Linked DNA regions of Homo sapiens. The protein of the gene in region 1 purifies or fractionates together with the protein of each later gene. This does not show direct contact. Each region holds a gene or a part of one and is shown on either strand. Other genes may lie near its edges.

Evidence for each region. Proteins that work in one complex are often made in the same cells at the same time.
Region 2: the proteins of KAT8 (region 1) and PHF20L1 purify together in Homo sapiens (affinity purification with mass spectrometry; 3 studies listed by BioGRID and IntAct, with this or other methods). This does not show direct contact.
Region 3: the proteins of KAT8 (region 1) and KANSL3 purify together in Homo sapiens (affinity purification with mass spectrometry; 2 studies listed by BioGRID and IntAct, with this or other methods). This does not show direct contact.

Annotation. Positions count from the first base shown.
Region 1 is NC_000016.10:31,127,659-31,131,889, forward strand, and holds the end of KAT8 (histone acetyltransferase KAT8), read left to right. Parts: intron 1-391; coding exon 392-481; intron 482-2,358; coding exon 2,359-2,499; intron 2,500-2,608; coding exon 2,609-2,702; intron 2,703-2,797; coding exon 2,798-2,948; intron 2,949-3,087; coding exon 3,088-3,242; coding exon of another isoform or gene 3,243-3,334; exon of another isoform or gene 3,335-3,536; coding exon 3,537-3,601; 3' UTR 3,602-3,701; downstream 3,702-4,231.
Region 2 is NC_000008.11:132,813,353-132,820,387, forward strand, and holds part of PHF20L1 (PHD finger protein 20-like protein 1), read left to right. Parts: intron 1-1,284; coding exon 1,285-1,537; intron 1,538-3,535; coding exon 3,536-3,724; intron 3,725-3,986; coding exon 3,987-4,193; intron 4,194-7,035.
Region 3 is NC_000002.12:96,607,313-96,614,347, forward strand, and holds part of KANSL3 (KAT8 regulatory NSL complex subunit 3), read right to left. Parts: intron 6,308-7,035; coding exon 6,176-6,307; intron 5,623-6,175; coding exon 5,506-5,622; intron 5,252-5,505; coding exon 5,150-5,251; intron 5,042-5,149; coding exon 4,970-5,041; intron 3,827-4,969; coding exon 3,752-3,826; intron 3,572-3,751; coding exon 3,414-3,571; intron 2,251-3,413; coding exon 2,187-2,250; intron 1,753-2,186; coding exon 1,552-1,752; intron 1,353-1,551; coding exon 1,196-1,352; intron 1-1,195. UniProt on the Homo sapiens protein: Non-catalytic component of the NSL histone acetyltransferase complex, a multiprotein complex that mediates histone H4 acetylation at 'Lys-5'- and 'Lys-8' (H4K5ac and H4K8ac) at transcription start sites and promotes transcription initiation.

The sequences.
Region 1 (4,231 bases):
AGTGGGACCTTAAGTGTGGATGAAATTGGGGGCTGTCAGGAAGGGGCGCTCTCATCACTGACACAGTGGGCTGCTTCCCGAAGTGTGGAATCTGAAGCGAATAGGTGTGGTTTAGGGAAGCCATTGTCATGGACGGGTCCCTCCAGAGCCAGGCCCACAGAGACTCAAAACCCCACCGTGCTGTGTGATGTTTGGATCTCTGTGCCTGGGCCTTGGTCTGTAAAAGCAGGATCACTTTCCTAAGGCTGCTGGGAGGATTACTCGATGTAGGTGAAGTGTTGAGGGGGGAAACAGAGAGGCAGAGACTTGCTCCAAAGCATGCAGTGGTGGGTTGGGTGCCTCCTAGCAGAGAACATATGGGCAGCGAACCTGTTCTCTTGTCCCCGACCAGGGTCAGTGCCAGTGGCGGCAGCCCCCCGGGAAAGAGATCTACCGCAAGAGCAACATCTCCGTGTACGAAGTTGATGGCAAAGACCATAAGGTGAGTGGGTGGCCAGGGGTTGGGAGAGGCCGGGGAGGCCCTGGGCACCTCCCAGATGATCCTCATCACCACCAAAGGGGAGGGGGCAGCCTTAGCTGAGCCTCTATGGGCAGAATGCCTCTGAGGGGCCGGGCACTGCAGCTCACACCTGTAATCCTAGCACTTTTGGAGGCTGAGGTGGGCAGATTGCCTGAGCTCAGGAGTTTGAGAGCAGCCTGGGTAACATGACGAAACTCCTCGACTAAAAATACAAAAAATTAGCTGGCGTGGTGGTGCGCACCTGTAATCCCAGCTACTCGGGAGGCTGAGGCACAAGAATTGCTTGAACCTGGGAGGCAGAGGTTGCAGTGAGCTGAGATTGTGCCACTGTACTCCAGCCTGGTCGTCAGATTGAGAATCTGTCTCAAAAAAAAAAAAGAAGGCCTCTGAGGGCCTCCTAGCCTGGCACTAGGCCTGTAGTTGGTGCATAGGAAACACAGGGCCTTGTGGTGGCCCCAAGACTCTTCTGCTGGTGGGGTTAGGTTCAAACTTGGGTTGTTCTGGAACCCAGAGGAGATTTTCTTGCCTGAGGCTGCTTTTAGAAGTGCTCTCTCCTTCCGTTGGAAAGAAAGGTGTTTGTTTTTGCCTGGGAGGGGACTGCTTTGTGTGAAATTTCCTCCTGAGAGAGCTCTGTGGCTTTCAAGGTTTGAGTTCCTTGTTCCTGGCCCCGAATGACTTCAGCAGGGCAGGTTGGGGCCTTTGGGACCTGCCTAGCTGTTGTAGAGAACTTGGCCTTTGCCTTATCAGTCTGGGAGGGTCTGGCCAAGTGTACTGGTTTCCCGCAGATGGGCCATACAGCACAGGACAGAGAGGGCAGGCTTCAGGGTGGCTCATGTTGCCTTGTCACTTCCTCACTGACCACAGACAAGTTACTTAACATGGTTTGTTCCTGTTTCCTTGTCCATAAGACGGGAGTCATAATATTTAATATTTACCTAGTTGTGTTGTTAGTGGAATAAATGAGACAGCAAATGTCAAGTGTTTAGTGCAGTGCTTAGCACTAGTATGTGCTTAATAAACACGGGCCTTGTTATTATCGGTGACCTCTTGGGGCTTGATTAGCCTTGGACTCGGAGAATACGCAGGCTGAGCCCAGCCCTTGCCCCTGCTCTGCCTTCCTGAGCATGGCTGTGTGGAATAGCAGAAGGGCCCCCGCTGGAGATGTGGGGGTGCTTTCCAACTGCGCTCTGCCAGCTTTGAGGCTCTGGGCAAGCACTTCCACTCTGGGAGCTTCAGCTTCCTCCTGAGTAAGATGGGCCTGGCAGTGCTGGGCTCGCACAGCTGCCGGGTTGGATGAGAGAGTGGCTGTGGTGTCATAAACCAGGGAGCCCCTTAGTGTGTGCCGTGAAGCCAAACTCGGTCCCATTGTCCCCCTCCTGGAGTGCAGCCAAGTGGACAGACAGGGCTCGAGGTTCCTCCATTCAGCAGACGTTTACCAGGCACCCAGCTTCATACTTAGACTCGTGCTAGGCGCTGGGGACACAGCCATGAACAGGACGGTCTAAATTCCTGCCTCGGAGCCTCAGTTTCACGAGCTGAAACAGAGTTAATGTCTGTGAAGACTGAAGCAGATCCTGCATGGAAGGCACCCAGCTCGTATTTGGCACTCAGAAGGGGTGGCCGGGCTTCATCCAGCTCCACTGGCACCTCCGAAGTGCTGTTGCTCTCTCATTTCCAGTTCCCTGTTCGTCAGAGGCTGACCGAAGACTCCTTCCAGTGTGAAATCCTTCTGGCCTGGCGAGGCGCCCACTTCGCGTGGGCTGGTGCCGGCCGCTGGAACCAGCTGGGTGGGGCCTGTGCCTGCCCCCTGAGCCTGTCTCCCCCCTCCTCAACCCTAGATTTACTGTCAGAACCTGTGTCTGCTGGCCAAGCTTTTCCTGGACCATAAGACACTGTACTTTGACGTGGAGCCGTTCGTCTTTTACATCCTGACTGAGGTGGACCGGCAGGGGGCCCACATTGTTGGCTACTTCTCCAAGGTGCTGGGTCTGGAAACTCGGGGTGGGGAGGGTGGGGAGGGCGAAGGTGGGCATGAACAGAGAGTGGGGCAGAGCCTCCCCAGCGGCCCTGAGCACCTGCCTCCTGCAGGAGAAGGAGTCCCCGGATGGAAACAATGTGGCCTGCATCCTGACCTTGCCCCCCTACCAACGCCGCGGCTACGGGAAGTTCCTCATCGCTTTCAGTGAGTGGTTCCTGGCCTGTCTGGGAGGGGGAGACCTGTGGGGCAGGGGTGCCAGGGCAGGCTGGATCCTAAGTTCCTCTTTCTACTGCTGCCAGGTTATGAGCTCTCCAAGCTGGAGAGCACAGTCGGCTCCCCGGAGAAGCCACTGTCTGACCTGGGCAAGCTCAGCTACCGCAGCTACTGGTCCTGGGTGCTGCTAGAGATCCTGCGGGACTTCCGGGGCACACTGTCCATCAAGGACCTCAGGTGAGGGGGCCTCCCGGGCCCTGGGGGCAGGACTTGCCCTGAGATGGGCCACGATCCTGCTTCCTCATACCCTGTCACCATCCTGGCCAGATCCCACAAGGGCACCAGGTCTGGCATTTGCTCTCATCCCTTTTTGCAGCCAGATGACCAGTATCACCCAAAATGACATCATCAGTACCCTGCAATCCCTCAATATGGTCAAGTACTGGAAGGGCCAGCACGTGATCTGTGTCACACCCAAGCTGGTGGAGGAGCACCTCAAAAGTGCCCAGTATAAGAAACCACCCATCACAGGTGGGTGGGGGGCTGCTGTGTGTCGGGGGCGGTGGGGGAGTGTCAGTATATGGACTGGTAGGAGTCAAGGCCTCCTTATTGCTGTCACATGATCCCAAACCAGTCAGACCAGCTCCCAGGATGGAGCCCGGGGCAGGCCTCTCATTCCTGGGCTTCCCTACCCCTCCCCAGCACAGCCTGCCCTTTTGTTCTCACCTGGAGGAGGTGAAACTGGCCTGAGCCCAGAGGAGGGCAGCCAGGTGTGAGCTGGCCTGGCCCAGGCCCAGCCCTGCCTCCCGCCCCTTCTCCCCACAGTGGACTCCGTCTGCCTCAAGTGGGCACCCCCCAAGCACAAGCAAGTCAAGCTCTCCAAGAAGTGAGCAGCCTGGCCCCTGCTGTCGGACCTGAGCCTCCTGGCTCCCAGCCTGTAAATATGTATAGACCTGTTTTGTCATTTTTTTAATAAAGTCAGTTCTGGTGGCCCTGGACTTTGGAGGGGAAGGGGAGGCCAAGAGCGGATGTTCTTCATTTCACTTCACACATGCACGGCAAGTTGTGCTCAAACATTTTAATCATTTCTGCCCTGTTACTCCCACCCCAGATCCAAGCGCCAGCCCAGTTCCGGTGGGGGCTCAGTCCTCCGGAGTCCAGGAGTCAGGGCTCGGGGGCGCTCAGCGGCCAGTGGGCAAGATTGGGGCCTTTCCTGTCCTCGAAGCTGCACAAAGGTGGCCCCAGCCCAGAACACAGGGAGAGGGCAGAGAGATGTGCTCATCAGTCTGGGCAGGCGGGCCGGGAGCAGTCTTCCAGAAACAGGTGGGAGCCAGGGCTCATTTTCATAGCCAAGGGTCCCAGGAGCTCCCCAGGAGCTCGGCCAATGGGCTGGTCCATGGTGGGTGAGGGGCCAGAGGCTCTGGCCATTGCTACAGGCAGTAAAACTCCTGACTCTCAGTGATGGTCCCAAAAAGCACACCCAGAAGAATGGGCTCAAAGATCAAGATGGGGCCCCAGCC
Region 2 (7,035 bases), on another chromosome or scaffold:
GACACCAGGCCTTTTATGTGGTATGTCCAACATGCTGTCTATAGAGCATTGAAGGTGCCCTACTTAATACCAAATATGCACTTTTCTTCCCCAGCAAAATTTGACTTGTATCTCAGTGGGAACAGAATTATTTATTTATTTAGTCCCCAGAAAATGATCGTTCATATTCCAGAGAACTGCAGACAGCAGACCTGATAGTTATTCTCCACAAGATATGGAAGTAAAAAGATTTCTTGGGGACAAGCATGTTGTTTATAGTGCTAGCAGTCTGATTCTTTATAAAGGCCTATGGTAGAATAGATTTTCAAAAAATGCATATTATATATTTTGCTCTCAGATAAGTATATCAGAAAGAGATAGAAGTATTGCAGAACCATAGATTGCAAATTCATCCAATGTAGTTATTTTCTCTTGTTTTGAAAAATGGACACATTCACACATATTTTAACATATGTAGGAAATTTTACAGCCAAATGAATAAAAATGATCTTTTATGAAAGAACTGACAAAGTTCTAATTTTTTTTTAAAAGTATCAGTTGGCAGGAAGAAGGTAAAAACTCTCATCTAAGAATGCGACGTATTTTGTTTTTAAATCCAATGTTTTTAACTTACACTTTATCTCTTTGGTTTTTTTTTTGTTGTTGTTGCTTGTTTTGTATTGTTTTTTAGTCTTTTAACTCTATATTGCTGGTGGCTCTGATTTCATGATGCATTGTGCTTATGAAACTCTAGCTTTCAGCACTAAAATGAGTTAAAGATAATGTTTTGTTAATTTGGTCATTGTTTTTCCTGTTCAGATCTTTCTTTAAAGGGAATCTGTCTACTTAGACCTTTACATTCAACTTAAAAGAAAAGATTTTATAAGAAAACATCTAAAATCAAAAGCTTAAATGTATTCCTCTAATCCTTTAAAACATGAAAATGCTGTTTATTTTTCGAATTATTGTCATTGGCAATTATGGTTCCTAAAGGGGTATATTTCTATTTAATACTGAAAATATTTGTCCAGTAAGATAACATTTTATGTTCCGAAAATATTATGAATAATATATTTTAAAAAATGAATTTAGACTGAAAGTTGACAGCATCCCTTTAAAGACAGCCTATTCAACTTTTAGTTAATAATTTGTGGGGTTCTTTTTGGTTTTTCATTTGTAATAGAAATGTTATATGTTGCTTAACAATGTTTCTGGATACTAAAGTTGCTTAACAGTCAAAATAGAATACAAGAACAAAAATGAAGAAGCCAAAATAAAAATATCAATTTTTTATTATTTATTCAGGCGATTTCACCTAAACCTCAAAGTCAGAAAAAAAATGAAGCTGACATTAGCAGTTCTGCCAACACTCAGAAACCTGCACTGTTATCCTCAACTTTGTCTTCAGGGAAGGCTCGCAGCAAGAAATGCAAACATGAATCTGGAGATTCTTCTGGGTGTATAAAACCCCCTAAATCACCACTTTCCCCAGAATTAATACAAGTCGAGGATTTGACGCTTGTATCTCAGCTTTCTTCTTCAGTGATAAATAAAACTAGTGAGCACAGATTTTTAAAAAATAGTTATTTATCCTATAAGATACATTAAAAACAGTTTGATTGTAGTTATATTGTATTTTTATGAAGTTGCTTTTTAAAAACTCAAGTGGATATGATAGGGAAGGCTTGAAACTATTTCAGGGGCAAAAACCATAGACATTTCTTACTGATTTATTGCTTAGAGACTACTGCTGGTTGAGAATCCTTTCCATTTAATAACACAGATTCCACTGTAGTTTGACTCTCCTCAACTCATAATCCAAGCATACTGAGAGGCCTGATTCATTACAAAAAAAAAAAGTTATAAAAAGACCCAGGATAGCTATTTTTACTTAAGACTATTCCTGTAGATTTTTTGTCCCCACTTGTCTATAACTTTCCTCTGCAATACATTTTATTCATTCTTATTATAATATTTATAGTCTAGACTTCAGTTTAATCTTTTTAATGAAAAAAAAATGCCCCCATGATTGTATTTTTAAAGATTTTACTGTTTCAGTACTTCTAATTTTTCAAGAGTTAACGCAGTCTTTTTCGAAAACACCTTTCACATGGGTATATCTATCTATCTCCCTATATATCTGTATATATAAATAATACAAGATTTGTGTTGACCCTGAGTTTCTCATATTAGTTTAGTATCCTAAGTTGGAGACATGAATAACAGTTATTTGAAAAGTCAGTTGGTAAATGATGGTTTTTTTTGCTCTTTATGCAAAAAATGAAATACATGATCAGTTGAGTGAATATGACATGTTTCCTTATTCCATATTGTGTCTTCCAGAATAATCAAAGATGTTGGCATTCAGAAGACTTTTATCAAACTTATTAACCTATTTTCCTTCAGTTGCCATATTTTCTACTGAATCATTTTTTCATTTTGATCAGGTTTTGCTTTTTCTTTTTAATAGGTGGAAAGAATGGGAACATAATTCAATTGTTTTCCTAATAAGCTTCATTTCATTATGGCATTTATCATGAAATAGTGTCAGTAGTAGTCACTGGAATGTCATATGACATTAATAAACATTTTATTTTGGAAATTATATCTTGGTATTATAACCACAATATTATAGCAATTAAATTTTATTCTTTCATATTTTTAAGTTATCAGCATGTCTTTTTCGTTTTGATTGTAAAATTACTCTTAAATACCCAAACATCAATGTCTTTAGACTGTTCTTATTTCCTCTTTCTAAATTAACATGAATATATTGGCATATATAATCTTGCCTATTCTAGTCAAATGTGTTTGTATGCCATGTAGAAAGAAGATATCTAAAAGTGTGAGAGACATTTCCAAATATTTATATTATATTGCTAGAAGATGCCTAAATTACTTACCAAGTTGTTAAAAAACACAAGTACACAATGTCATAATCTTAAATATCCTCATTATTTGCTCACAATAAGTATACAAAGTTGTTTTTGTTCATTTTTTTTTTTTAATGAATCAGGCCCAGACATGTTTATAAAACTCCATTTGGGGGGGATGATGATGGGATAAAATTATTTACATTAGTGTAAAGTAAATCACTAACTCTATAATGTTGTATCATCTTTGTCCCTGCCTTTTTTTCCCTTAGAGTTTCTAGATTTGCAATGTAGCAAAAGGAATACATATATATATATTTTTCCTTATCTTTTGCTGTAAAGAGACTATTTTCCCGAAGGAAAAATGGCAATTTACACAACGATCTGCAATTAGAGAAATTAACTGTAGTCTGTCACTTGGGGGAGCTACTTGAAATTAATGTTCCATTTTATTTTCTTTTAGTTCTAGTAGAGTGTAGATTTTACAATTTTTGATTGACTCATTTTGAATGAGGGCACAATTTTTGCCTTTGATTACCTTTGGAACATGCCATTCCTTGTGGATATCTTATAACAACATCAGAGGGAAGAATATAAATCATTTTTTCCCATTTATCTCCTTAAATATTGTAAGATGCTCCTGGTATGTATCTGCTTCGTGAACATTGAAGATCTTTTTCTAGGTCCTCCACAGCCTGTGAATCCCCCTAGACCTTTCAAGCATAGTGAGCGGAGAAGAAGATCTCAGCGTTTAGCCACCTTACCCATGCCTGATGATTCTGTAGAAAAGGTTTCTTCTCCCTCTCCAGCCACTGATGGGAAAGTATTCTCCATCAGTTCTCAAAATCAGCAAGAATCTTCAGTACCAGAGGGTAATGTATATTGATTTCCTATAGAACCAAACATAAAAGAAGATAAAGAAAAAACTAAGAGATAAAGATTATTAAAATATTAAGATATTTCTGCTCTTATATCTTCTGGAGTTATAAGCACTTCACTTATTCTACAAATATTTATTGAGTGCCTTCTTTGTGCCAGGCACTGTTTAAATTATGTAACACTTTAATTCACAGTGATAGTAACTGAGCCATTTTATCTGTGTTAATATTACATTACACTCTTTATTTTGTGTAGTGCCTGATGTTGCACATTTGCCACTTGAGAAGCTGGGACCCTGTCTCCCTCTTGACTTAAGTCGTGGTTCAGAAGTTACAGCACCGGTAGCCTCAGATTCCTCTTACCGTAATGAATGTCCCAGGGCAGAAAAAGAGGATACACAGATGCTTCCAAATCCTTCTTCCAAAGCAATAGCTGATGGAAGAGGAGCTCCAGCAGCAGCAGGTAAAAGAAAAAAAATAAAGGCTCCTATAAGTAGATAAGTAGCTAGGCTTGCAGTTATTAGGTATAAACATTTTGAGGTTTAACTACATTATTTTGATTCCTATATAATTCCTTTTCATAAATACTTTAACATTTATAGGAGAGTTTCATCTCCGTTTTAAAGGTCTTTTGTGTGATCATTTTACAATCATATTCCCTGGACATACATGCTGCTTAACCTTGTCACTTGATCTATTTCCTTCTCCCTGCTTCTTTTTTATATATCCTTATTTCTACTAAATATAAATTATTAGAGCCAAGTATAGTTACAGGAATTCTTACTTTTGAAGCTGGGAAATACTTAATGGGATCAGTACTTTGGTTTAAGGATTTTGATAGAATTTAATATTTAAGAAACACTGAGCTATATGCCTGTATCTTAAATATAATTCCATATTTTGGGGCAGAATCCTCCAAATTGAATTAAATTTGCTGTAAAGTTATTTGAGGAGTGCAATATGTAAAATCAGCCATCCTTAATAACACATTTTTTGCATGATTTTGTGATATTTATTGTAGTTCGAAAGCATTTGGATGTGTATTTTACCAAGCTGATATTTTAAATCTAATAATATCTATTCATGTTTCCCTTATGTGGGTGCATTGTTTTATTTAGAAGTTTTTAAGAATTATAACCTGATCTAGAATACACATAAAATAAAAAGGCCAATACTAGTTACAAATGCACTTCTGGTAAATTACTGTTGGAACTAGATGTTTGAAGGAAGTCTGAATTTAGTTTGTTGTGAGTTGGAGAAAAACATAAGGCAGTTTGTTGATTCGTTACCAAGGGTGTTGGTGATCATTGTGTTTACAGGCGTCTTCCCTGAAACCATTTTATCCATTTTTTGGATGAAGCATAAAATGAAACTTATTCTTTTCTGGTGATGGCATGTATTGAAATAAAATGATTGAAGTAACATAAGAGACATATACTTATTTTTATTAATTTTTATCTTTATATAAAGGTTGAAGTTACTTTGTACATGATAATTCTTTATCATGTTTAAAAAAATAAAACAATACCCAAATGTGAATATTTGTAGATTTTGAAACATTTCCTGTAGTTTCTCAAATCAGATCTATTGTCTTTTGACTCTTGGTCTTTCCTTAAGATAATTAATTTTTCTTTTCCACTTTTCCACAAGATTTCCAAATTGTCATTGACCCATTGAGATACTTTTTTGATAAAGGTCTTATTCGGTTCTTTAACGATCTGGAATTTGTTACCGTACTGAATATATGAAAAATATGTTAAAGTTATAAGGTTGTATATACATTGGGAAAATTATTTTCAAATGTACATGTGAAAATATTTACATTTTTCTTTAAAAGTATTCTAATATTTGTAACAATATTGAAATATAGGCCAATATAAGTAACTGTGTAATAACTAAGAGTCTTACATTAACAGATTATATATCATAAAATATCAATGTAGTGATTGTGCATGGAAGTCCTTGACTTCGATGATTTTGCTTCTAACCAGATTATTAACTTCCTCTTTTCAGAATTTCTAGCATATTTGTGGCAATGTGGCTGACTACCTTAGAGGAAGGCACACGAATATTCTTTCCCTTTTTAAATATTAGCAGTAACTATTGGAAAAGTAAAATAAGTAAGATCGTTTTCTGGGAAAGTAAAAGGTAGAGAGGAGTTTAGCTATAATTTGAATTTGTGGAAGAGTAAGGATTATCTGGATATGATGAGCTTAATAGTACAGTAGCTGTCAACTTTAATTGATTATAGCAAGGAAATGCATAGTTTTAATTGTTAATTACTGAAGATTTATTAGAGGGTTGAACACAGTATTTGAATAGAGGGAGGTGAAATTCTCATTTGTTTCTGTGACCTCTTAATTTTTAGTTTTTGAGGAAAGTAGTGCAATTTAGGTCATGTTCTGACTGAACACCTTTTGATTACAACCTTGTGTGCCTGTCCCACGTGCATTGAAATTCTCGGTGGTCTCTATGCTTTTCTCCTTAACCTTTTTGTTATTCACCCTCTCTTGACTATTTTGCAGTATTTGTTATGCTTCTGTCTGTTCCCCAAGTCCTTTTACATCTAGAGCCAAAGTGCCAGGTTTTTATGTTTTTATTTCTCTGATACATATGTACATATATGCACATACTCATACACACATGTATGTTTTGTTGGTGTCCATATTATAAAAGTAAATTTTCTTACTGTTGAATTTTAAAACTGATAATTGAAAACATTCTTTACAGTTCGTCAGAGACATTTTCTGAGTTATTTTTGTCAAATTGAAACTCTTGGGGAGTTTAGAATGATGAGGGTGTTAGTTGCTAACTGTGAAATTGTTCAACATGGTTAGGTTTTTACTTTTGGGGGAGCAAGATAAATTCACACTGTTGAGTTTAGCATTTGATGCTGAAGGATTGATGAGATTTGCAGATAGTCCAATTATTATATACAACTTTTCTTAATTGTTTTCCAATAGAGATAATGAACTTGCAATAATCTCTCGTATGTTCTTCTGCTGGGGTGGATGCCCACATGTCTAGCCACTGTTAAGAATGCTATTGCTGCCTACATTACCAAACAAGTAATTGGTATCTTTGTAAAAATTGATGCCTTTGTTTTTATTTTACTATCAGGATGCTTTGTCACAGAGCCAGCCAATTTTAGATAAGGATACAGCCTCAGAAAATCTTAATTCTGTTAGTATCTGGGAGGATAGAGTAAATCAAGTTTTTTGAAAAGGGGTCTTTTGAAAAATACTCTTGGTTCAGGTTCTCACAGGCACCTTGGGCCAACAGTTATCTATTGCCCCTTGTCAACA
Region 3 (7,035 bases), on another chromosome or scaffold:
ATATATGTTCGCTATTAGTATTCCCCGTTTGCCCATCAGCTCTGCTAAGCCAGGGTTCTAAAGCTGCTACTCTCCCCCATGACACCCTAGATCCCCATTTCAAACCCAGCTCGCCAATCAGCCTTCCAAACTCCTTAGATTCTCAACTAATCACCCTCTGCAGAAGCACAGCAGACCACCAGCTCTGTCTTCTTCAGAAGTGTAAAGACACACTGTCCACACGGGACTTGGCTCTGGCCACCACTCATGAAGATCCATGGCAGAGCATCCGCGCAGACCCTTGGGGCCTGGCCTCATTTCTCAACTCCTCCCATCCACTCACACTTCTACTCCTTGTTAGTACTACTCTTATAAGCAAACTCACAAGAGGTCTGGGTTTCGGTTCTGATCATTTGGCTCCACTAAAAGAAACACAGGGAAAGTAAACAGATGAGCCTCCTATCCCCTCCACGTCTGTCTGCCAGACAGCCAGCTCTGGCTGCTGCCTCTTCCCAGGCACCCCTATTCCTGAAAAGCTCAGGTGACATGCTCCTGGACACATCGTTAAACACCAATGCCCAAGAGGCCTTACCTCAAGGCCACCCAACTGGATCAATGTGGGGGAAGGGGGACAGAACCACTGTTTCTTCTTTCCCTACCCAATGAACTCTCCCTTTTCTATAGCTCCTTTCATAGCACTCGCAGCTCACCAAACTCTTACTTTCGACTATAGGAATACTTCCCAGCTTCATCTGAAACCTGTATGCAGAGAACCCTGATAAACTTCACTGAAAGTCTCAGTGTGAGAATCTTAACGCTTCAAGGGTCAAACAAAGAAAGGGCATGATGCCAGGTGAGTTACCCTAGAATCTGATTAATAAAATCAATCACCCAATACATATGATTGGAGAGCCCCGACTGGAGGAGTGGCTGGCAAGGTAGAAAAAAGTTTAGGCCAATATACATGTTCATAAAGCCTAGCCTCCCCAGAACAGCAAGACAAAGCTATAACTAGTGATCACAAAGCCCCACTAACTCAGAGGCCTTGGCATTCATTTCAATAATTAATTTTGAATTTTGCCTGCACAGAAATGTGAGAAAGGGCGCCTCTCACATCCCCCTGAAAAAAGCCATAGATATCAATACTGTGCAACTGCCATGTGACATGAACTACAGAAGACAGACCCAAGAGGAGCCACTGGCCAAGTGCCTATACCTTGAGCTTGTTTGTGGGTCAGCACAGCTTCTGTCCGCTGCACATGTCTCTTCAGCAGCTGAGAACTTCCAATCTGACTGGACTTCTGGGCAGAGGTCACTGTGGTCACTTTGGTCTTGGGACTGGAGGTGGGGCTGCTGGACACACTGGAGAGATCCTGAGTAAGGTGAGAAGGTCAAGAGATGAGACAATGTTACTAGGATCTGACCATGAGTCAGCATGTCCCTCTGGAATTCCCCTTGTAGGAACTCACAGGCCCATGGCACTAATAAGACAGAGGCATCCCCAGGAAATTAAGGAACCAACTCTGTGGTGCTGATTCCCCAGCAAAAGCGCTCCCTCCCTGCTCACACTACCTCTGAGCCTGAGGGTGAGGCGGGCAGCTTGGCAGCTGGGGAGGCAGGTCGACTGCCCCGCTCAGGGACTTCAAAGGCCAAGTCTCTGCGGGCCACATCGCGGGGCTTCTTCTTCTTCTCAGCATCCTGATCCCGAGGTTCAGAGCCCATGTGACCCTCAGCACGAGTGAGCACTCCAGTCAGAAAGTCCACAATCTCATCCTAGTGTAGAGAGGAGCCAACCAAGGCCTTTTAGTCCTCATCTGGAGAATGGGAACCTCTCATATACTTTCCAACTAAAACAGATTCTCCCTCAGCTCTGGCATCCGCATGTGCCAGTCCTTCCCCACTCAAACAAGGTCTGGCGCAAATCCCAGGCTTCTGAGCAACTGTGGTTCAAGAAGACCAGCAAGTGCCTCTGTCAGGGGGAGCTCTGGGGTGGTCACATTCCACCACTTTTCCAACACTCTCCCCCGTGATGCTTTGCTTACATTAATTCACCACTCTCATTTTTCTTTTCTTTGCTTATGACTGAGACCTACCAGAGGCCCCAGTGGAGGCCTTAGAGCCAAAGAGACCACTACCAATAAGACCAAACCTAAAAGGCTACAGAAAGGCAAGCCTAGCTGAGAAAAGCACACAAAACAACTGTTTACCTGAATACATCTGTCCACCATGCTCTGAGTCAACCCTTCTGATTTCTTCTTTGCTTTGCTTATTCTAAGAAACAAAAAGGATGACATGTTTACTTCTTACACATTGCACGGCATCCTATGAAAATAAGAACGTATTTCTTTTCTGGGTTGTTTATTTTCTAGCCCCAGAAGGAGGGCCATGTTAGCCTTAGGCAGGTAATGCAACCTCTCCGAACCTGTTTCCGTGTCTGCAAAATGGGGAATCATAACATCCCATTCATGGAGTTGTGGGGATTAAACAAAATAACATATGTAAAGAAACCAAGCACAGTGCCCAGGACAGTCCGCTCCAGAATTCCTATACCTATAGCTTAATAGATCAACTCTATCCAGAACTCAGGAGGCGGAGGTTGCAGTGAGCTGAGATTGCACCACTGCAGTCCAGCATAGGCGACAGAGCCAGGCGCCACCTCAAAAAAAAAAAAAAAAAAAAAAAAAAAAAAGCTCAAGGTCGTGAAAGACAAAGATGGAGGAACTCTATCAAATTAAAGGAGACTGAGGAGACATGGCAACTAAATCCAAGTGTGATCCTGGGCTGGATGCTGGACCAGAAAAATGACATTAGGGAAACAACTGATGAAACATGAGTCTGTAAATTACAGTATCATGTAGATGTTAATTTCTTGATTTTGAGAATTACACTTTGGCTATGTAAGATGTTTAACATTTAGAAAATCAGGTGAAGGGTATATAGGAATTGTTTTGTACTAGTGTTATAACTTTTTATAAATCTGAAATTTCAAATATTAAAAAAGGTTTTTTTAATGCTGTCTTTTTTTAATTTTTTTTTTTTTTTGAGACAGAGTCTTGCTCTGTCACCCAGGCTGGAGTGCAGTGGCGGGATCTCGGCTCACTGCAAGCTCCGCCTTCTGGGTTCACACCATTCTCCTGCCTCAGCCTCCCGAGTAGCTGGGACTACAGGCGCCCGACACCAGGCCTGGCTAATTTTTTGTATTTTTAGTAGAGACGGGGTTTCACCGTGTTAGCCAGGATGGTCTCAATCTCCTGACCTCGTGATCCGCCTGCCTCAGCCTCCCAAAGTCCTGGGATTACAGGCGTGAGCCACCGCGCCCGGCTAATGCTGTCTTTTAACTGAACCAGACTGGTCTGTAGTTACATTGCCAGCTTCCAGGCTTATCTCTAACACTGTAACACAGCTCTCTTGCAGCTCTGGGAGAATCCACCCACCTGAGATTGTCATCAGCTCCCCCAACCACCACCAAGCTGTTCTCAGCTCGAATCTTCTCCCGGAAGTCCTCCATGGCTTCAGGGTGACATTGAAGGGAATTCTGACCAATGACAAAGAGGACTGGAGTCTTCATATCCAAGAGGGGATCATCTACATCCTAAAACAGGTATAGGTTTTAGAATCGGCTTCTTCATATTCACAAAGCACTGACCCAGAAACTCCACTAAGGAGGATCAGCCATGCAACTGCAGTCAGCCTCAGCATCAGCTTGGACAAGGCATGCACACTCGCGCTCCCACTGCCAATGACCCAGCACTCAGCTTTACCACATTCTTACCCCTCTGGGGCCATCCACAGTAAGCAGAGGAAACCCAAGGCAGACAACTGCAGTGACATACTCCATTACTGACACCTGTAAATAACAGAACAGTTTGTCTAAACGTCAACTGAGTTCATGGCACCTCAGCCTACCCAGAATCCAGGAGTGGTCCAGACCCACCAGACAGTCTCACCTCTTCCTCTCCTGTCCTAATATCCGGGTGCATCTTCTGCCACAATGGCAGCAGTAAGAGCACAAGACACAAGGTATGTCATTCCATAAGCAGCCACTACCTAGAGAACTGGGGCCCTAAGAGGACCCCAGCAGGTGGCTGAACCATAGGATAGAAGGTTCAGTATTCCTACCCTGTCAACCCCCTCAACTAGAGCCCTCCTGCTCCATTTTTCTCCACAAATAGTAAATATAGTCAAGAGAACACAATGTTGCCATTAACCCTTAAGTGAAAAAAAATTCTCTCTATTGAACTTAATGGATAGCTACCAGACAGCCTAGATTTCTTGGAGCAAACTGCTAAGGCCTAACACCCTGGGAGCAGGGACTATGGGGACCTTCTTCCTCTCATAGCTATCACACTTGATTGGACTGCATGAAGCAAAATTAAGGGTTTGGACATGAGGGACACTTACACAAACTGACAGACATACAAATATATGTAAAATACGAAAAGATTCCTTGATGTCTTGGAAAAAGACTGAAATGAACACAGCATCAAATTCCAGAGCTATTAATATTTGCCAGCTACAATTACTGTTGTTTTTTAGGTGGGAGAACAGTATGGTACTTATGTTTAGAGAAAAAAAGGGATCTTTTTTTTTTTTCCACAGATATATACCCATATGTGTGTGTGTGTGTGTGTGTGTGTGTGTGTGTGTATGTGAAAATGCTATTATATTTGGGATTTTCTTCAAAACAATCTAGGGGAGAAAGAAAATGAGCAGGGTGAGATGAAACAAGCCCAGCCAAGAGTTGATCACTGGTAAAGCTGGGTGAGGATCCGGGGGTTTATTATACTACACCTGCTTTTGTTTCTGCTTAAAGTTTTCCAAAATAAATTAAAAATTGTTTTAATAAAATTTGTCTTCTACAGTTTAAAATGTAATTATATAGGTAAAGTATCTAGCGCAGAGCCTGACACACAGTAAAGGACTCAATGGTAGCTATGATTAGTGGTATTCCATCCCAGGACAACCTCCAAATAAGATAGAAATTACTTACATGACAGGCCACCAAAGCTCCTGTGTTCCAGCCAATCAAGATAATGGGTTTGTGTGGGAAATGGCTGTGAATCTTCATGGGAAGAGAAAGAAGACAGTAAGACAGGAGGCCAAAGATAGGTGCAGAACAACCCCAGAATGCTGGGTATGCCACAATGTACTGAAATACGGGCATTCTCACCTCCAGCACTTTGCTTCTCACTGCCCCAATCATATGCTCGAGACACTGTAGAACTCCTACCCCACTGCCATTGTTCAGCAGATGGGTGGCTACAGGGATGACCTGAAGGAAAGAAGTAGCCCCCACACCAGCAGAGGTAAGTTTCAAATCTTTCAATTCTGTTTAACCTAACCTAAACCCAAAACCTTGGAATTCCACATGAAAGAAGGATTAGAGGAGGCTCCACATGAAAGAAGGGTTAGAGGAGGCTCCACATTCAAGTTACCCATTTTGACCTCCTCCCACATATTCTTCTCCTCAATCCTCCAAGACTATATTCCCTGCCAGGAAGGAGTTCCTCTTGCCCCCACACATACCTTGCCCAAGCAGGACAGCTGAGATTGCCAGAAGCGGTGGCGGCGTGAAGTGGGAAACACAGAGCTGGAGGGACCAGAGGAGGCGATGAGAATCAGCGGAGAGCCAGGGAGTTTGCTCTAAAGAGGAAGAATCCCACCCAAAAACCAGTGAGTGAGAAGTGTCCTTTCATGAAATTCCAAGTATCCCAATACCTTTCTCATCCCAACCAATGCTCCTTTGCTTGTGAAATTATGTTAAGCACTATGTAAAATAAATTATTAATAATAGTTAAAGAAGCTGGCCAGTCATGCTGGCTCACACCTGCAATCCCAGCACTTTGGGAGGCCAAGGCAAGTGGATCACCTGAGATTAGGAGTTTGAGACCAGCCTGGCCAACATGGTGAAATCCTGTCACTACTGAAAATTAGCTGGGCATGGTGGTGCATGCCTGTAATCTCAGCTCCTCAGGAGTCTGAGGCAGGAGAATTGCCTGAACCCAGGAGGTGGAGGTTGCAGTAAGCTGAGATCGTGCCACTGCACTCTAGCCTGGGTAACAGAGCAAGATTCTGTCTCAAAAAATAATAATAATAATAAATAGTTAAAGAAGCCATTTATCCTCCTGCCAAGGTTCTAAGGCTTGAGTCTAAAATTTTTATGTACCATTGTTAAGTCCTGAGCCATCCAACTTACTGGTTTGTTATGAGAAAGCACACCCACAGCAGGGTCCCAGGGCCTCTTCAGTAGGAGAGACAAGGCCTCAGCTCCTGCAGCCCCAGTCTTTGTGTTGGATGACACAAGCATCCGGTCAATCAAGGTTGGGATCTACAAAGAAGAAAGAGCAAAGATGACTCCAGTGTAAAGCAGGAGACCTTCCACCACCAGCAATCAAGCAGAAGAACAGAGCCCCACTATAAGCCATAGACAGACTTCAACTAAGCCTCTGAAAACCTCCTAAGGATCAAGAATATATATAAATAAGCGGGTGAAAAGTATGCTCCCACCATGAAAAGTGAATGTGTACAATCCTTTGGAAAGCAGTCTGGATATGCAGCAAGGGACTTAAATGTATTCCCATCCCTTTTCCAAATGTTTCTACTTCTGAGAACCTTTCCAAAGAAAACGTATCAGAAACAAAAACACACACAAAAGGATGGGGACAATTATGCACAGAGACAAATTAACTATGAATAATAATAAAGTAAAAACAATTTAATATATATGTGCATATGTAAGGGAGTAGTTTAGTCAACTATCTACCTAATTGGATATTAAAGATTATTTTCGAATATTTACAAGAATTTATTTATTTATTGAGACAAAGTCTCGCTCTGTCGCCCAGGCTAGAGTGCAGTGGCCTGATCTTGGCTCACTGCCACCTCTGCCTCCCGGGTTCAAGCGATTTCTTGTTTCTCAGCCTCCCAAGTAGCTGAGATTACAGGCGTGCACCACCATACCCAGCTAATTTTTTGTATTTCTAGTAGAGATGGAGTTTCACCATATTGGTCAGGATGGTCTTGAACTCCTGACCTCAAATGATCCACCCGCCTCAG